Regions from separate parts of the Homo sapiens genome. Here region 2 is linked to region 1. The links come from fine-mapping of genetic effects on gene expression. Tissue or cell type: whole blood. Region 1 holds a variant in brackets; the other region holds the start of a gene. All regions are shown on one strand. Distances are from middle to middle.

The links. PIP is the estimated chance that this variant, and not a neighbour inherited with it, causes the effect.
Region 2: TKFC starts here. The variant in region 1 is fine-mapped to the expression of TKFC in whole blood (TOPMed, PIP 0.98).

The regions. Positions count from the first base shown.
Region 1 is chr11:61,935,237-61,943,497 of GRCh38, forward strand. It overlaps a transcript of RAB3IL1 not described here and the pseudogene RNU6-1243P. Among named protein-coding and RNA genes, the nearest start is that of BEST1, 11 kb to the right of the region's middle. RefSeq lists a silencer at 3,284-3,432 and an enhancer at 6,617-7,271. The variant G/A (reference allele first, on the strand shown) is at 3,748.
Region 2 is chr11:61,329,119-61,337,118 of GRCh38, forward strand. It overlaps TKFC (triokinase and FMN cyclase), which reads left to right and starts at 4,110. Exons shown (of 18, transcript NM_015533.4): 1 at 4,110-4,211; 2 at 5,502-5,613. The coding sequence starts at 5,611. It overlaps DDB1 (damage specific DNA binding protein 1), which reads right to left and starts at 3,987. Exons shown (of 27, transcript NM_001923.5): 1 at 3,790-3,987; 2 at 2,425-2,573; 3 at 840-956; 4 at 245-466. The coding sequence starts at 3,850. RefSeq lists enhancers at 3,549-4,071, 4,072-4,594 and a silencer at 3,990-4,249.

The sequences.
Region 1 (8,261 bases):
TGTTGAAACCCCATCTCTACTAAAAATACAAAAATTAGCTGGGTGTGGTGGCACGCACCTGTGATCCCAGCTACTTGGGAGGCTGAGGCAGGAGAATCGCTTGAACCCGTGTGGCAGAGGTTGCAGTGAGCTGAGATTGAGCCACTGCACTCCAGCCTGGGTGAGAGAGCAAGACTGTGTCTCAAAAAAAAAAAAAAAAAAAGAAAGAAACTGTTTCTGAGGAAGCACAGACATTAGACTTTATAGATAGACTTTAAATCAACTATTTTATTGTATTAGTTAATTAATTATTTTTTGAGATGGAGTCTTGTTTTGTCACCCAGGCTGGAGTGCAGGGGCACTATCTCAGCTAACTGCAACCCCCACCTCCCAGGTTCAAGTGACTCTACTGCCTCAGCCTCCCGAATAGCTGGGATTATAGGCACCTATCACCATGCCTGGCTAATTTTTGTATTTTTAGTAGAGATGGAGTTTCACTATGTTGGCCAGGCTGGTCTCAAACTCCTGGCCTCAGGTGATCCACCTACCTCGGCCTCCCAAAGTGCTGCGATTACAGGGGTGAGCCACCACACCTGGCCTAAATCAACTATTTTAAATCTACTCAAAGACCTAAAGGAAACCATGAGAACTATATCTCACTAAATATAGAGTATAAATAAAGATAAATTATAAAAAGAAAACAAATAGAAATCCTGGAGTTTTAGGTATATGCCAAGAGGAACATTTAAAAAAAAAAGAAAAAAGAGAAAAATAAATTCTGGAGTTGAAGAGTATAATAACTGAAATAAAAATTCGCTAGAGGAGGTCAATATAGATTAGAGCAGGCAAAAGAAACAATCAGCACACTTGAAGATAAGTCCACTGAGATTAACAATCTGAGAAACAAGAATGGAGAAAAGCAAATGGAGTTTAAGAGACCCATGGAATACCATCGAGCATAACAACATATGCATAATGAAAGTCCCAGATGGAGAGGAGGCAGAGAAAGAAGAAGACAGAATATTTGAAGAAATAATGGCCCAAAACTTCCAATATGTAATGGAAGATTCAATCTTCACATTCAATAAGCCTAATGAATCCCAAGTAGGATAAACACAAAGAGATCAAAACCAAGATACATTAGAATCGAACTATTGAAAGACAAAGATAAAAAGAGAATCTTGATTTTTGTTGTTGTTGTTTTGAGACAGAATCTCACTTTGTTGCCCAGGCTGGAGTGCAGTGGCACGATCTCAGCTCACTGTAACATCTGCCTCCTCCGTGCCTGGCTAATTTTTGTATATTTAGGGGAGACAGGGTTTCGCCATGTTGACCAAGCTGGTCTCAAACTCCTTACCTTAAGTGATCCACCCACCTCGACCTCCCAAAGTGCTGGGATCACAGGCGTAAGCCACCATTCCCCGCCTGAAGAGAGAATCTTGAAAACAACAAGAGAAAAGTGACTCATCACATATAAGCTAATCTCAATAAGATTAACAGTTTATTTCTCATCAGAAACCATGGGGGCCAGATAGTGGGATGATATATTCAGAAAATGCTGAAACCAACAAACAAAAGAGGATTAAGATTTCTATATCTATCTATATATAACTAAGATTTCTATATCTGGCAAAGCTATCCTTCAGAAAAAAAAGGAGAACTCAAGACATCCTCAGATAAACTAAAGTCGAGAGAGTTTGTCGCTAGTAGACCTGCCATATAAGAAATGCTAAAGGGAGCTGTTCAGGTTGCTACTAAAGGACACTAGATAGTAACTCAAAACCACATGAAGAAATAAAGAACATCAGTAAAATAAATACATAGGTAAATATACATAGATAAATATAAAAGTTAGTATTACTGTATTTTTAGTTTAAACTCCTCTTTTTTCCCTTATATAATTTAAAATACATCTACAATAACCATAAATCTATGTTGATGGGCATGTAAGGCATAAAAATGTAATTACTGACAATAAAAACATGAAAGGTAGGGGATGAAGCTATAGAGGTTCAAAGATTTTGCATGCTATTGAAACTAAGTTGGTATTAATTAGAATTAGATTGTTAAATATTATTATTTAAATTTTTTGTTGTAGTTGCAGTTTTTGAGACCAGGTCTTGCTCTGTTGCTTGGGCTGGAGTGCAGTGTTGCGATTATGGCTCACTGCAGCCATGAACTCCTGGACTCAAGTGATCATCCCACCTCAGCCTCTGAGTAGCTGGGACTACAGGTGCACATCACCACATCTGGCTAATTTGGTGGGGGGGTGGCTAGATACGGGGTCTTTCTTTATTACCCAGGCTGGTCTCAAACTTCTGACCTCAAGCAATCCTCCTACCTCAGCCTCCCAAAGTGGTAGGGCTTGAGTCACCATGCCCAGCCAAATTGTTCAATATCCAAGACAACCACTAAGAAAATAACTAAAAGAAAAGAAAAGAAGGGAATCAAAAGAAAAAAAGAGAATCAAAATGGGGCACTAGAAAATATTTAACACAATAGAAGGCAATAATGAAGGAGTTGAGGAACAAAAAAACAAAAATATATAATGCATATAAAAAATAGCAAAATGGGAATAAATCCTTATCAGTAATTACATTAACTGTAAATGGATTGAATTATCCAATTGAAAGGCAGAGATTAGTAGAATTGATTTTTTTTAAAAAAAACATGATCCAGTGCTCACTTCAGCAGCACATATACTAAAATTGGAATGATACAGAGAAGATTAGCGTGGCCCCTGTGCAAGGTTGACATGCAAATTTGTGAAGCTTTCCATTATAAAATTAAAAAATTAAAAAAAAACCCCACATGATCCAACTATATATGCTGTCTACAAGAGCTTCGCTTTAGCTCAAATGACCCAAATTGTTGAAAGTGAAAGGATGGAAGATATTCCAGGCTAGGGGCAGTGACTCACGCCTGTAATTCCAGCCCTTTGGTAGGCTGAAGTGGGAGGATTTCTTGAGGCCAGGAGTTCAAGACCAGCTTGGGCAACGAAGTTATGCTATCTACTAAAACAAACAAACAAACAAAAAAACCTGGTATGGTGGCACACACCTGTAGTCCCAGCTACTCAGGAAGCTAAGGTGGGAGGATGGATCCCTTCGGCCCAGGAGTTTGAGGCTGCAGCCACTGCACTCCAGCTTGAGTGACAAGGGACTCTGTATTTAAATACTACATATATTCCATGAAAACTAACAAAAAGAGGGCTGGAGTGGATATCCTAATATTATAAAAAATAGACCTCAAGGCAAAAATTGTTACAAGGGACAAAGAGAAACATTTTGTAATGATAAAAGGTTCAATTCATCAAGAAGATATAACAATTATATATTTCACCTAACAGGAGAGTCCTCAAAGTATTTGAAGCAAAAATGGACAGAATTCAAAGTAGAAACAGGCCAGCAAGAATAGCTGGAAATATCGGCTGAGCACAGTGGCTCATGCTTCTAATCCCAGCACTTTGGGAGGCCGAGGTGGGCAGATCACCTGAGGTCAGGAATTCAAAACCAGTCTGCCCAACATGGTAAAACCCTGTCTCTACTAAAAATACAAAATTTAGCTGGGCATGGCAGTGTGTGCCTGTAATCCCAGCTATTTGGGAGGCTGAGGCAGGAGGATGGCTTGAACCTGGGAGGTGGAGGTTGCGGTGAGCCAAGATTGTGCTACTGCTCTCCAGCCTGGTAACAGAGCAAGACTCTGTCTCAAAAAATAAAAAAAAGTAATAAATAAATAAATAAATAAATAAAAAGAATAGTTGGAAAC[G/A]TCAATACTTCACTTTCAATAATGGCTAGAACTACACACTAGATAAGGACATAGAAGACTTGAACAGTGCTAACTCTACCCAACCATAGCAGAATATACATTCTTCTCAAAGTACACATAAAACATTCCCCAGGATAGACCATATGTTAGACCACAAAATAAGTCTTAATAAATTTTAAAGAATTGAAATCATATGAATTATCTTTCCAACCACAAAGGAATGAAATTAGAAATAACAGAATTAAAAGTGAAAAATTCACAAATATGTGGGAATTAAGCAACACACTCTTAACTGCCCCACGGATCAAAGAAAAAATCACAAGAGAAATTAGATGAGATGAATGAAAATGAAAATACAGCATACCAAAACTTATCGAATACAGCAAAAGCAGTACTCAAAGGGAAATTTATAGCTGTAAAAACCTACATCAAAGAGAAGAAAGATCTCCAATTAATAACCTAAACTTCCAATTTAAGGAACTAGAAAAAGTAGAATAAACTAAACCCAAAGCAAGCAAAAGAAAGAATAAAAATTAAGAGTGGAGATAAATGAAATAGAAAAGAGAAAAACAACAGAAAGAATCAATGAAAACAAAAGTTGATTCTTCAAAAAGATCAAGAAAATTGATGAAACTTTAGACTGACCAAAAAAAAAAAAAGAAGACTCAAATTACTAAAGTTAGGAATAAGGCTGGAGTGGCTCACGCCTGTAATCTGAGCACTTTTGGAGGCCAGTGCGGGGGAATTGTTTGAGCTCAGGAGTTCAAGACCGGCTTGGGCAACATAAGGAAACCTTGTCTCTGCTAAAAATAAAATATTAAAAAATTAGCCAGGTGTGGTGGCACATGTCTGTAGTCCCAGTTATTTGAGAGGCTGAGGCAGGAGGATTACTTGAGCCCAGGAGATTGAGGCTGCAGTGAACTATGATCTTGCCACTGCACTCCAGCCTGGGCAACAGGGTGAGACTCTGTCTCAAAAAAAAAAAAAGGAACGAAAGTAGAAAAATTACTACTAGCTGGACATGGTGTCTCGTGCCTGTAGTCCTAGCTACTGGGGAGGTTGAGGCAGGAGGATTGCCTTGAGCCCAGGAGTTCAAAGCTGCAGTGAGCTATGATCGTACCACTTCTCTCCATCCTGGGTGATAGAGCAAGATGCTGTCTCTAAAGTAAATACATAGGCTGGGTGCAGTAGCTCACGCCTGTAATCCCAGCACTTTGGGAGGCCGAGGCTGGCAGATCACCTGAGGTCGGGAGTTCGAGACCAGCCTGACCAACATGGAGAAACCCTGTCTCCACTAAAAATACAAAATTAGCCAGGCATAGTGGCGCATGCCTGTAAACCCAGCTACCCGGGAGGCTGAGGCAGGAGAATCACTTGAACCTGGGAGGTGGAGGTTGCGGTGAGCCGAGATCATGCCATTGCATTCCAGCCTGGGCAACCAAGGGTGAAACTCCGTCTCAAAAAAAAAGAAAAAAAAAAGTAAATACATAAATGAATGAATAAAAATTAAAAATAAAAATGTGGCCAGGCATAGTGGTTATGCCTGTAATCCTGGCATTTTGGGAGGCCAAGGCGAGAGGATTCCTTGAGCCCAAGAGTTCGAGACCAGCCTGGGCAAGATGGTGAGACCCTATCTCTACAAAAAGTTTAAAAGTTAGGCTGGGCGCGGTGGCTCACGCCTGTAATCCCAGCACTTCGGGAAGACGAGGTGGGCGGATCACTTGTCAGGGGTTTGAGACCAGCCTGGGCAACATGGTGAATCCTTGTCTCTACTAAAAATACAAAAATTAGCGGGGCATGGTGGCACTTGCCTATAGTCCCAGCTACTCAGGAGGCTGAGGTGGGAAAATGACTTGAACCCGGGAGGTGGAGGTTGCAGTGAGCCGAGAATGCACCACTGCACTCCAGCCTGGGCAACAGAGCAAGACTCCATCTCAAAAAAAAAAATGTAAAAATTAGCCAGGCACTGTGGCACGTGCTTGTAATCCCAGCTGCTTGGGAGGCTGAGGCAGGAGGCTCCCTTGAGCCTAGGAATTCAAGGTAGCAGTGAGCTATGATCACACAGCTGCACTCCAGCCTGGGTGATAAAGTGAGATTCTGTTTCTATAAATAAATAATAAAATAAATAAAACATTTTAAAAAGAAAAACTACTACCAACCTTACAGATACAGAAAGAATTATAGAACACTATGAAAAATTGTATGACAACAAACTAGATAACCTAGATTAAATGAACAAATGCCTAGAAACCAAAACTTCCTCAAGAAGAAACAGAAAACTTGAATAGACCTCAAACACAAGATTGAATCAGTAATCAAAAAACTTCCAATAGAGAAACGATTAGGAGCAAATAAAGAATAAATGCCAATCCACAAACTGTTCCAAAAAATAGAGAAGAATATACTTCATAACCCATTCTCTTGTGCCAGTATTATCCTAAAACTAAAGCCAGACAATATCTCACAAGGAAAGAAATATAAAGACCAGGCTGGGCGTGGTGGCTCACGCCTGTAATCCCAGCAATTTGGGAGGCTGAGGCAGGTGTATCACGAGGTCAGGAGATCGAGACCATCCTGGCTAATGTGGTGAAACCCCATCTCTACTAAAAATACAAAAAATTAGCCAGGTGTGGTGGCAGGCACCTGTAGTCCCAGCTACTCGGGAAGCTGAGGCAGGAGAATGGCGTGAACCCAGGAGGCGGAGCTTGCAGTGAGCCCAGATCGCACCACTGCACTCCAGCCTGGGCAGCAGAGCAAGACTCTGTCTCAAAAAAAAGAAGGAATATACGGACCAATATCCCTTATGAATATAGATGCAAATATCCTCAACCAAATACTAGCAAATCCAATCCAGCAACATGTTAAAAAGATTATACATCGTGTCCATGTGGGATTTATCATGGGAATGCAAGCAAGGTAGTTGAACATATGAAAATCAGTGTAAAGGCCAGGCATGGTGGCTCATGCCTATAATCTTAGCACGTTGTGAGGCCTAGGCGGGCAGATCACTTGAGGTCAGAAATTTGAGACCAGCCTGGCCAGCATGGTGAAACCCCACCTCTACTAAAAATACAAAAATTAGCCAGACATGGTGGCGTGCTCCTGTAATCCCAACTACTTGGGAGGCTGAGGCAGGAGAATCGCTTGAAACCAGAAGATGGAGGTTGCAGTGAGCCATGATCGCACCACTGCACTCCAGCCTAGGCAACAAGAGCAAAACTCCGTCTCAAAACAAACAAACAAGATGTGCTTTGTTAAACAGATGCTTGAAGGCAGCATGATCGTTAAGAGTCATCACCACTCCCTAATCTCAAGTAATCAGGGACACAAACACTGTGGAAGGCCGCAGGGTCCTCTGCCTAGGAAAACCAGAGACCTTTGTTCACTTGTTTATCTGCTGACCTTCCCTCCACTATTGTCCCATGACCCTGCCAAATCCCCCTCTGTGAGAAACACCCAAGAATTATCAATAAAAAAATAAATTAAAAAACAAACAAACAAACAAACAAAAAACACCTGAGCTCAAACAATTCTCCCTCCTTGGTCTCCCCAAATGCTGGGATGACATGCATGAACCACTGCACCTGGCAAATTATGACATGATCTTATATGTAGTAAACCCTAAAGAATCCACACAAAAACTATTACAGCTAGTAAATAAATTCAGCAAAGTTACAGGATACAAGATTAATATACAAAAATCAGCTGTATTTCCATACATTAGCAATAAACAATCTGAAAATAAAATTAAGAAAATAATGCCATTTACAAAATGGAACTTTATTCTTATTAAAAAGAATAAGAGACTTCGGAATATTTTTAACCAAGAAGATGCAAGACTTGTACACTGAAAACCCTACGACAGTGGTGAATGAAACTAAAGAATACCTAAATAAATGAAAAGACATCCTATGTTCATGGATTGGAAGACTTGATGTTGTAAAGATGACTAAGTGATCTACAGACTCAGTGTAATCCCCATCAAAATTCCAACTGCGTTTTTTGCAGAAATGGGCAAGGCGATCCTAAAATTCACATGGAATTGCAATGGACCCCAAATAGCTAAAACCATCTTGAAAAAGAACAAAGTTGGAGAACTTACACTCCTGGTTTCGAAATTTCTACGTAGCTACATAATTAAAACAATGAAATATTGAAGTGACATATAGCTCAATAGAATTGATAGTCCAGAAATAAACCCATATATGTATTATCAATTGATTTTCAACATGTATGCCAAGACAAGTCAATAGGAAAGAATATGCTTTTCAACAAATATACATGGACACCTGGATAGCTACATGCAAAAGAAGAAAGTTGGACCTTTACCTCAAATGATACATAAAAATTAACTCAAAATAGGTCAAATTCCTAAATGTAAGAACTAAAGCGATAGAAGTTTTAGAAGAAAACGTACGGGTAAATCTTCATGACCTTGGATTTGACAGTGTCAAAATTTATCTAAATTAAAATTTTAATGTTTAAAATTCAAAATGAATTAAAAACTTTCATGC
Region 2 (8,000 bases), 610 kb before region 1:
AGTGTAATCTCAGGATTAAAACCTGCTACAAGCCCCAGAGAGCTTGCTGCCTCCACAATAAGTACTACTGCACTCAAGAAGCAACGAAAGTCTGACCCATATTAATTGTGTTGTTCAAAACATTTCAGGACAAACACATTAAACACTTCTCTCTATCCTACCAAACCCAGACATGCCAGTTAGCAAAAACAACTCCTATCACATCAACCTCACAGTTTCTCGCTCTCTCTTCCTGATCCAGTACCTGGTAGACAAAGCAAATAGTAGGTGCTTGGCAACCATATAGGAACTTGACATCAATGACATGCAGCTCCTCCAGGCGGATGTTGAAGGCCTTGAGTTCTTTATTATCGCGATCTAGTGGAATAACCTTGAAAAGGCCATCATAGAGACGCAGGCCAATCATCCGGCACTCAGGGTCAATGATGCCAATAATGCCGGTCTCTGAGGGGCGGCCAATGCGGTCCTGAGAAACAAAATCGGGATTAGGGAAGAACCTCAACATCCACAGAGCAACAGAGGACGCTGGGCACCACTTGTGCAGAAAAATTTTAGGAGAGGTATTAAAACTAATGGATCTATTTGATAGGCCAAATAGTTGGAGCCCCAATGTCAGTGCATGCCTTTTTCATGAAACACTGAATCTCAATGAATTATTACCCTGTCCCTTGGGTCTTGAGTGAACTACAGGAGTCCTTTCTCCAAAAAGCTCAAACCCATAGTGTCTTCTCCTTATTTCTCTGATCGAATAGAGAGCTGCCCCCAGCACTTTAATTTTTTCCATGAATCATGACAGCCCTACTTAGAAAACTTTCATTGGCCTAAAGCAGCCACCTCACCTGGACATTGCCATGGGCTCGCGTAATGATGTCAATGCTCTCGCCACTCTGTTTATACTCCAGGATGCAGGCATTGTACTTCGCTGTCAAGATAAACAGCAGGTCCTTGCTCTCCCCCTGGAAACCAATATTATGCTATCAAAAGAGGTTCTTTTTAAAACAGGAACAACCTGTCCAGTCTTTAAGCACACCAAATTCTTTAAGAATTTTCCAAATTCTTCTCTCCCTAAAGAGAAAATACATGGTGAGCTTGTAACCCACACTAGGTACACATACACCCTAAGGGCATGTACAAAAAGCCAGAACTGAAGCTGGTAAACATCTAGTTCTCACTTTCATGATTCTCCATCTCTCTGTTCTACAAACAAAGTCTTCATCTATTTCAATCTCAAGCTAATCTCAATCATCCCATTCAAATTCTGAAAGATGAATGTAATGCCTCCTCCACTCCTCCCCAAGTATTTGAAGAAAGAGGAAAAAAAATGTGGGAATAACAACGGAAGCTAAAATGGATCAACAAAGTCCTACTTATTTAACACAGACTCCAAAAAATTGCTGTTTTGTTCAAAGGGTTATAATTAAAATTTTGAACCCACTGCTTTCTTGCCAGATTCAGTTAAGACAACATAAAGCAATGTGGTGGTGATTTGGATGAAAACATTTGCGCTAAAATAATGAAAATACTGATGGTAATTGTTTTTTTTGTTTGGTGTTTTTTTTTTTGGAGATGGAGTCTCGCTCTGTCACCGGGCAATGGGCGCCATCTCCACTCACTGCAACCTCCGCCTCCTGAGTTCAAGCAATTCTTGTGCCTCAGCCTGCCAAGTAGCTGGGATTACAGGCACGTGCCACCACACCCGGCTAACTTTTGTATTTTTAGTAGAGATGGGGTTTCACCATGTTGGCCAGGCTGGTCTCGAACTCCTGACCTCACGTGATCCACCCACCTCGGCCTCCCAAAGTGCTGGGGTTACAGGCGTGAGCCACCATGCCCGGCCTGGTAATTGTTAACATAACTGTAAATGCTTGCTATATGATAGGCCCTATGTTACTGAATCATTTCATCGTCACAACAACCCAGGGGATTTGATCTGAAAGGTGCCTTAAGTGGCACCTAAAGTCAGAATTAACAAGAAATGAAGCCAGGACTGCCCCACTCTGTAGCCTATCCTCTGAAACAAACTGCTTTAATTTCTCCCTTCTAAAGAAGTCAACTTCATAAATGTTTCCCTAATGAATCTCTCCTTTTACTTCTAGAAAGCTTGGTCAAGAGTACATACTGAAATTTGCTATCCAAAGAGAGAAAAAAGAGAAGAGTTTTTCTCCTAAAGCATATTCCACCCATCCCAAGAATTCGCAAAACAACCTAACACAGCCCAAGCACGGTGGCATGCCTACAATACCCCAGCTACTCTACTCCAGAGGCTAAAGTGGAGGGATTGCTTGAGCTCAGGAGTTCAAGACATCCTGGGCAACACTGTGAGACCCCCGTCTCAAAGAAAATAAATAAACAAACAAAAATAACATAAAACAACCTACGACCAACAGTTCCCCCTCCACTGCTTGTCCCAACTGCAACACTTACCTTGGGCCTGAAAAGCTCCATGACCGCAATCTTCCCATACATGCCCACCTCTTTGACGGGCCGAAGCCCCTCGGCGGTGACCACATAGATCTCTAATCTCGTGTTTTTGGCAATCAACAGGTTTAAGTCTTCGGCCGAAGTAAAGTGTCCTGAAAGAACAGACCCTCTAACTTTTGAACTCAGGGGAAGGGCCTCCCATCCCTTCAAAATAATCCTATCACTTATGTCTAAATACCTCCAGAATTCTCATTTACTTCACATACTTCTCCAACTCCCTCCAGCTACTCCCCTTCTTGCCAAATCCGGCACCTCAAAGAGTCTCAGTTCATGCATTCAACAAAGCTACTTCCCTAATCAGACTAAGAAAACTGGACTGGACCTAAGAGCCGTGTGTCCTCCAAATGACAATGACTGCGTAATCCCTTCTCATGCCTCTTGCCCCTCCAATTTTACTCTATTACAGTTACAGTGGCAGGCTCTAATTGAGAATGCCGGAGAAAGTGTTCACTTCTTCCAGTCTTCATCTAAAGTCTCACAAAACTTTTATCTGACAGACCAAGTCAAATGAAGAAGTCCCAGAGCTTTATATGAAAACACTGTTTTGTCCACACCCCCTGCCCTCCTGGCAGTCTACCAATACCTCCATCCACACTCAGCTACCTCCAACTCTGAACAACAGTTTTGTTTTGGAATCATGATTAGGGTGTATATAAACATGCAAGCTTGGGGTCTGCATATTCAGCTGAGAATGTGGGTTAAGATGACTCTTCCCGGGTTCTGAACATCGGTGTCCTTAACAATCCAAGCGCATCGTCAACAAGGCAAACCCAGCACTGGGCCAGGCAAACCAAACCCTCTTCTCCAGCAGGGCCCTCATGTAAACAACAGCCCCAGGCAAAGGGGTTAGCCTGAAGAGGGCTCCTCTCCCTCTGTGGGATAATGCGGGCATTCCTCACATCCCTCCACCTCCTGGGCCCCCCAGACTTCCCCACAGGAAAATCTTGACCCCAAAGTCGTCATTACCACCTCCCCTTTTCCTGGCCACAGAAAGCCAATCTCCGGGCCCAAACGACACCGCACAACCAACTCACACTCCTCTGTCTCACTGGGCCCGCCCTGTTCTCGAGGCCGAATGACCTCCCCAGGACGAAAGGGGACCCTCGAGAGCGGCTTCCAACCCCCAAAAAGCGCGTACAGGGACGACTCTTTCGAGGTCGCGGTGCTGGGGGAGGTTCCTCGGCCGCCAGCGCCTTCCATTCGCCGGGCCCACTCCTGCCCGGCCGCCCCCGGGGCGGCGGGCCTCCCTAGGCCGCGGCTCCCCCCAACTCCCTCACTCGCCGGGGTCTCCGGCCCCGGCAGCCTCACCGGTCACGCAGCCGTTCACGGCGGTGGGCTTCTGGGCCGTTACCACGTAGTTGTACGACATGTCGAGGCTTGGAGCGGCCCGTCGGGACTCGAGCGCGACACTAGAAAGAGGGACACAAGCGAAAAGACAGGTGGCCCCCAACAGCGCGCAGCGAACTCCACTGCCGCTGCCTCCGCCCCAGAGACACGTTGCAGGCCAGAGCGGCCGGGGCGCGGGGCATCACGGGACGGCCTCACCTGGCCTCTTGGAGGACTCCCGAAGCCCGAGGCCGCCAACCGAAGGAGGCCCCGCCCCCGGAGGCACCGCCTCGCCTCTTTCCGCCAGCGCCCGCAGGACCCGGATGAGAGCGCACGCTTCGGGGTCTCCGGGAAGTCGCGGCGCCTTCGGATGTGGCGGATGCGGCCGTGAGCCGGCGGGGGAGGTGCGCCAGTGTCCTCCGAGCTCGCCCGCAGACTCCCCACCCCGTTCCGCGCCCTTTGCCCTTCCCCGCATCCAGTCCTCCTTCCGTTGCTCCAGGAGCCCTCGGGCTGTTCCTCCTTTGGGAACGGGAAGGACTGCGGAGGCATAGAGAGGGAAGGGAGACCGCGATTCGTGCATATCCCAGACTAGAACCTTGCCTGCTTTCCTTTCACTGTCTCAGTTCCTCCAGATCCAGCTGGTGCCCTCGCCTGACGTTTGAACGACCACCTGCTCACCTCCTCCCTTTTGCGCGTTGATTCTTCAGACTTCAAAGGGCCCACCGGTCTGCTTGCCCAACGTTATTAGTGCCCCTATTGCTCTACAAATTCGAACCTCAAACACAAAACCAGTATTTCTCCGTAGGGAACCTTAATGAGCCAGGAGAGCCGTCAGCCCTGCAGCCTCCAGGGTACCCCACATCAAACAGGCTCCCCGGGAACAAGAGGAATACCACGTGGCTTGGCACACTCGCAGAATGCCAGAGAGGAGCCAACCCCCATTTTACAGATGAGGAAGCTGAGGCTTAGGGAGGAATTGGTTTACCTAAGACCCTCCCCACAACCCCAAGTAGGCTGAGGCAGAGCTATGTTGATTCTTCCTATTGTGCACCCACACAGAGGCCAACACGCTGCTGAACCAGGCTGAACTGAGGAAAAGCTAGAAAGTCATCGTGGTTTACATCTTGCCTTTCCCATAGCAGAGACTCTGCCTGACTTTGGAGGCACTGAATTATCAGTAGTAAAAACACACTCTGTAGAAAAACTAGACATTGGTTTAGATTCTGGCTGTTACCTGTATTACCTTGGACAAGTCCCTAGAGCTCTCTGAGTCTGTTTCCCAGAAGTAAAATGGGTCACAAACCTGGCTAGCTCCCCCCATTCCCTTCCCTTTTGGTGCCAAGGCCAGTGAGGGCAAGCGTGTGACGAGCTTTGTTAACTTTTTCGCTGCATGTGATGCCCGTGTAAAAGATAGTTATTCTGAGGATCACTGTCCTTTAGTGATGAAGTGGGTGCTGTTCCTGGACATAAAGGCAGACCTGTGCTTGACATGGATTGATCTGTCTTCTGGCAGTGAAGTGCAGGCATGAACCTTGGTCAGCCCCACACTCTTCTCCATCCGTAGCCCATGTACTAGAGTTTGGACTTGGACCGAAGTCTGGGGCAGCTCCCTAATTACTAGGGTGCTGAAGGCGTGATTGTGCCAGTCGACTGCGAGTTCCTTCCGCAGCTTGTATCGTTACCCACTCCTGCAGGTGCTGCTGCTGCCTCCACTGTACTCAGACCCAGGTAGCACAGGATTGTCCATCCTCCAGCAGCTCAGTGCAACGGTGTGAACTCAGCCTGTTTCAGAGCCTCCACACCATGGTGAGTCATACAGGGCCGGGACGGGAATGGCAGCATGGTCTCAAAGCAGGATCCCAGCCTTGGGCAAGCTAAAGCTCCTTACACTTTGACTGAGAGATGCTATTGCCTCCTGAGGCTCACGGGTGAAGAGAGAGGGTCATCCTCTCTCCCAGGGTCTGATCCCTGCTTTTCTTTGTTTCCTGGAGGCTGCTGGTCCCAGCCAGGCCTGGGGCTGCAGCCTCTTGAGTCCCTTCAGAGCCACTCTGCCCCTTATCTGGGTCTTGCATTCAGAGTAAAACAGTAACAGTTACCTGCTCTGTAATAGACATTGTACCGGTCACAGAAGGAATCGTGAAGAATGACCATGTGACCGTTCCTAACCTTGGGGCTTATGTGGGCCGGTCTGGAGCTGGGATCTACAGTGTGGGAGGCTGGCCATGTCCCTGGGCTTTGCTCCAGGCCCACTGATTTGAACCAAAACAAGCCTTGAACATATCTGGATTCAAATTTCAGCCTGCCACTGACCAGCTGCATGACCTTTTACAGACCTCTCTGCGCCTCTTTTTCTTCATCTGCATTATAAGGCAAATTAAGGCCTACCTCCAGTGGTTGTGTGGTGTTGATCAAGCAGAGTCCTGGAGGCCTCACTTGACTTCCTTTCCTTTTCCATCCTTTCAGGCCACTGAAACCAGGGATAGCACTGGTCCCTAAACCCTCTTCTGGCTCTGTAAAAGACAGATTATCATGATGGGGAGCAGGCCACTTTCTTGGAGGGTAGTGCTGCTGGAGGCTGGGCTTGGAGTGAGGCCAACTCACAACTTCATTGTGTGTTCCAGTCCCTGGTAGGCTCTGAGAGCCACAAACCCATGTCCTTTCTAGGGCAACCTCTGTCACCCTCCACTTCCCTCCAGCCCCTCGAGAAAGCAGCATGATATGGCCAAAAGGGAACCAGCTTTGGAGCCAGGCAGACCTGGACACCTGCTGGCTGTGTGACCTTGGGCAAAATAGTTTAACTGTGCCTCAGTTTCCTCACTGGGCTCATCTTTCCTCCATAGGGCTGTTGGGAAGTTTTGTTTTGTTTTAGTTTGGGTTTTTTTTTTTGAGACGGAGTTTTGCTCTTTTTGCCCAGGCTGGAGTGCAATGGCGCAATCTCGGCTCACCACAACCTCCGCCTCCCAGGTTCAAGCAATTCTCCTGCCTCAGCCTCCCGAGTAGCTGGAATTACAGGCATGTGCCACCACGCCCAGCTAATTTTGTATTTTTAGTAGAAATGGGGTTTCTCCATGTTGATCAGGCTAGTCTCGAACTCCCAACCTCAGGTGATCCACCCGCCTTGGCCTCCCAAAGTTCTGGGATTATAGGCATGAGCTACCACACCCGGCCTGTTGGGAAGATTAAATGAGACATGCTCAAAAACACTTAGAACTGGGCCTGGCTCTTAGTCACTGCTCAGCAAATGGAACCAATCTTATTGTTCTTCTTGCTCCCTACAGACCTAGGCTACTCTGAAGCAGGTGGCTTAGCCCTGGCCCTGGCTGGATGCAGGACAGGTTGGCAGGGAGGCAGCAGAGCCAAATTTTGTACAAAGGAGCTGGTGCTAGCAAGCTCAGGAAGAAGCCACAGCCGGAAGTTCACCTTGCCAGGACCTGGCTCAGCTGCAGGTTCCCACCGGGCCACCAGGTGGCGGTGGGAGCCCAGCCCTCTGAGTCCACGTTGGGCCCCAGTCTCACTCTGTCTTCAGGACAAAGCCAGGGGCTGCAGCCCTTGTTCAGCAGACTCTGGCTTTTCACAGCCTGTTTGAAAAAGGGAGTAGCTTCATTTGATTGAGTTTCCACTATATCATGGGCATATACTCTGTTCTAGTAAATCCCTATTTTACAGAGGAAGAATTTTAGCTCCCGACAATGATGTATCTTCCCTGAGTTCCTGCAGCTAATGAGAGGCAGAAGTGGGATTTGAACCCAAGTCCCTGTAACAGCAGAGCTCAAGCCACACTCCATTCTGGCCCCCACGCTACTCACTTCTGTCTGCACCCTGTATCCACTCAGCCAAGCCTGGCGGCACTGCTCTGTAACCCTCCACCAGCCTGTCCACAACCCCTCCTGAGGCTGCCTGTGGCCAGTCCTCTCCTCCCCACCCCTTCCTGCTGGTCACCCGTGCTTCCTGGCACCACCACACTATTCACTCATCCAGGCCTTGGCTTATGCTCCCCCTCTGGCTGGAAGAGCCTCCCTTTTCCCTCCTCCCATGTCTCCTGCCCCCTTTTTCCCTACCCCGGTCCTGCTTATCCTTCCCAGAGACCTCCAGGCCCCTCGGGAGGCTGCGGCCCCTCCTCTATGCTCCCATGGTGCACGTGCGCTCCTCGTGTAGCAGTGCCCACTACACATGGCTGTGACCTCTGCTGTGTT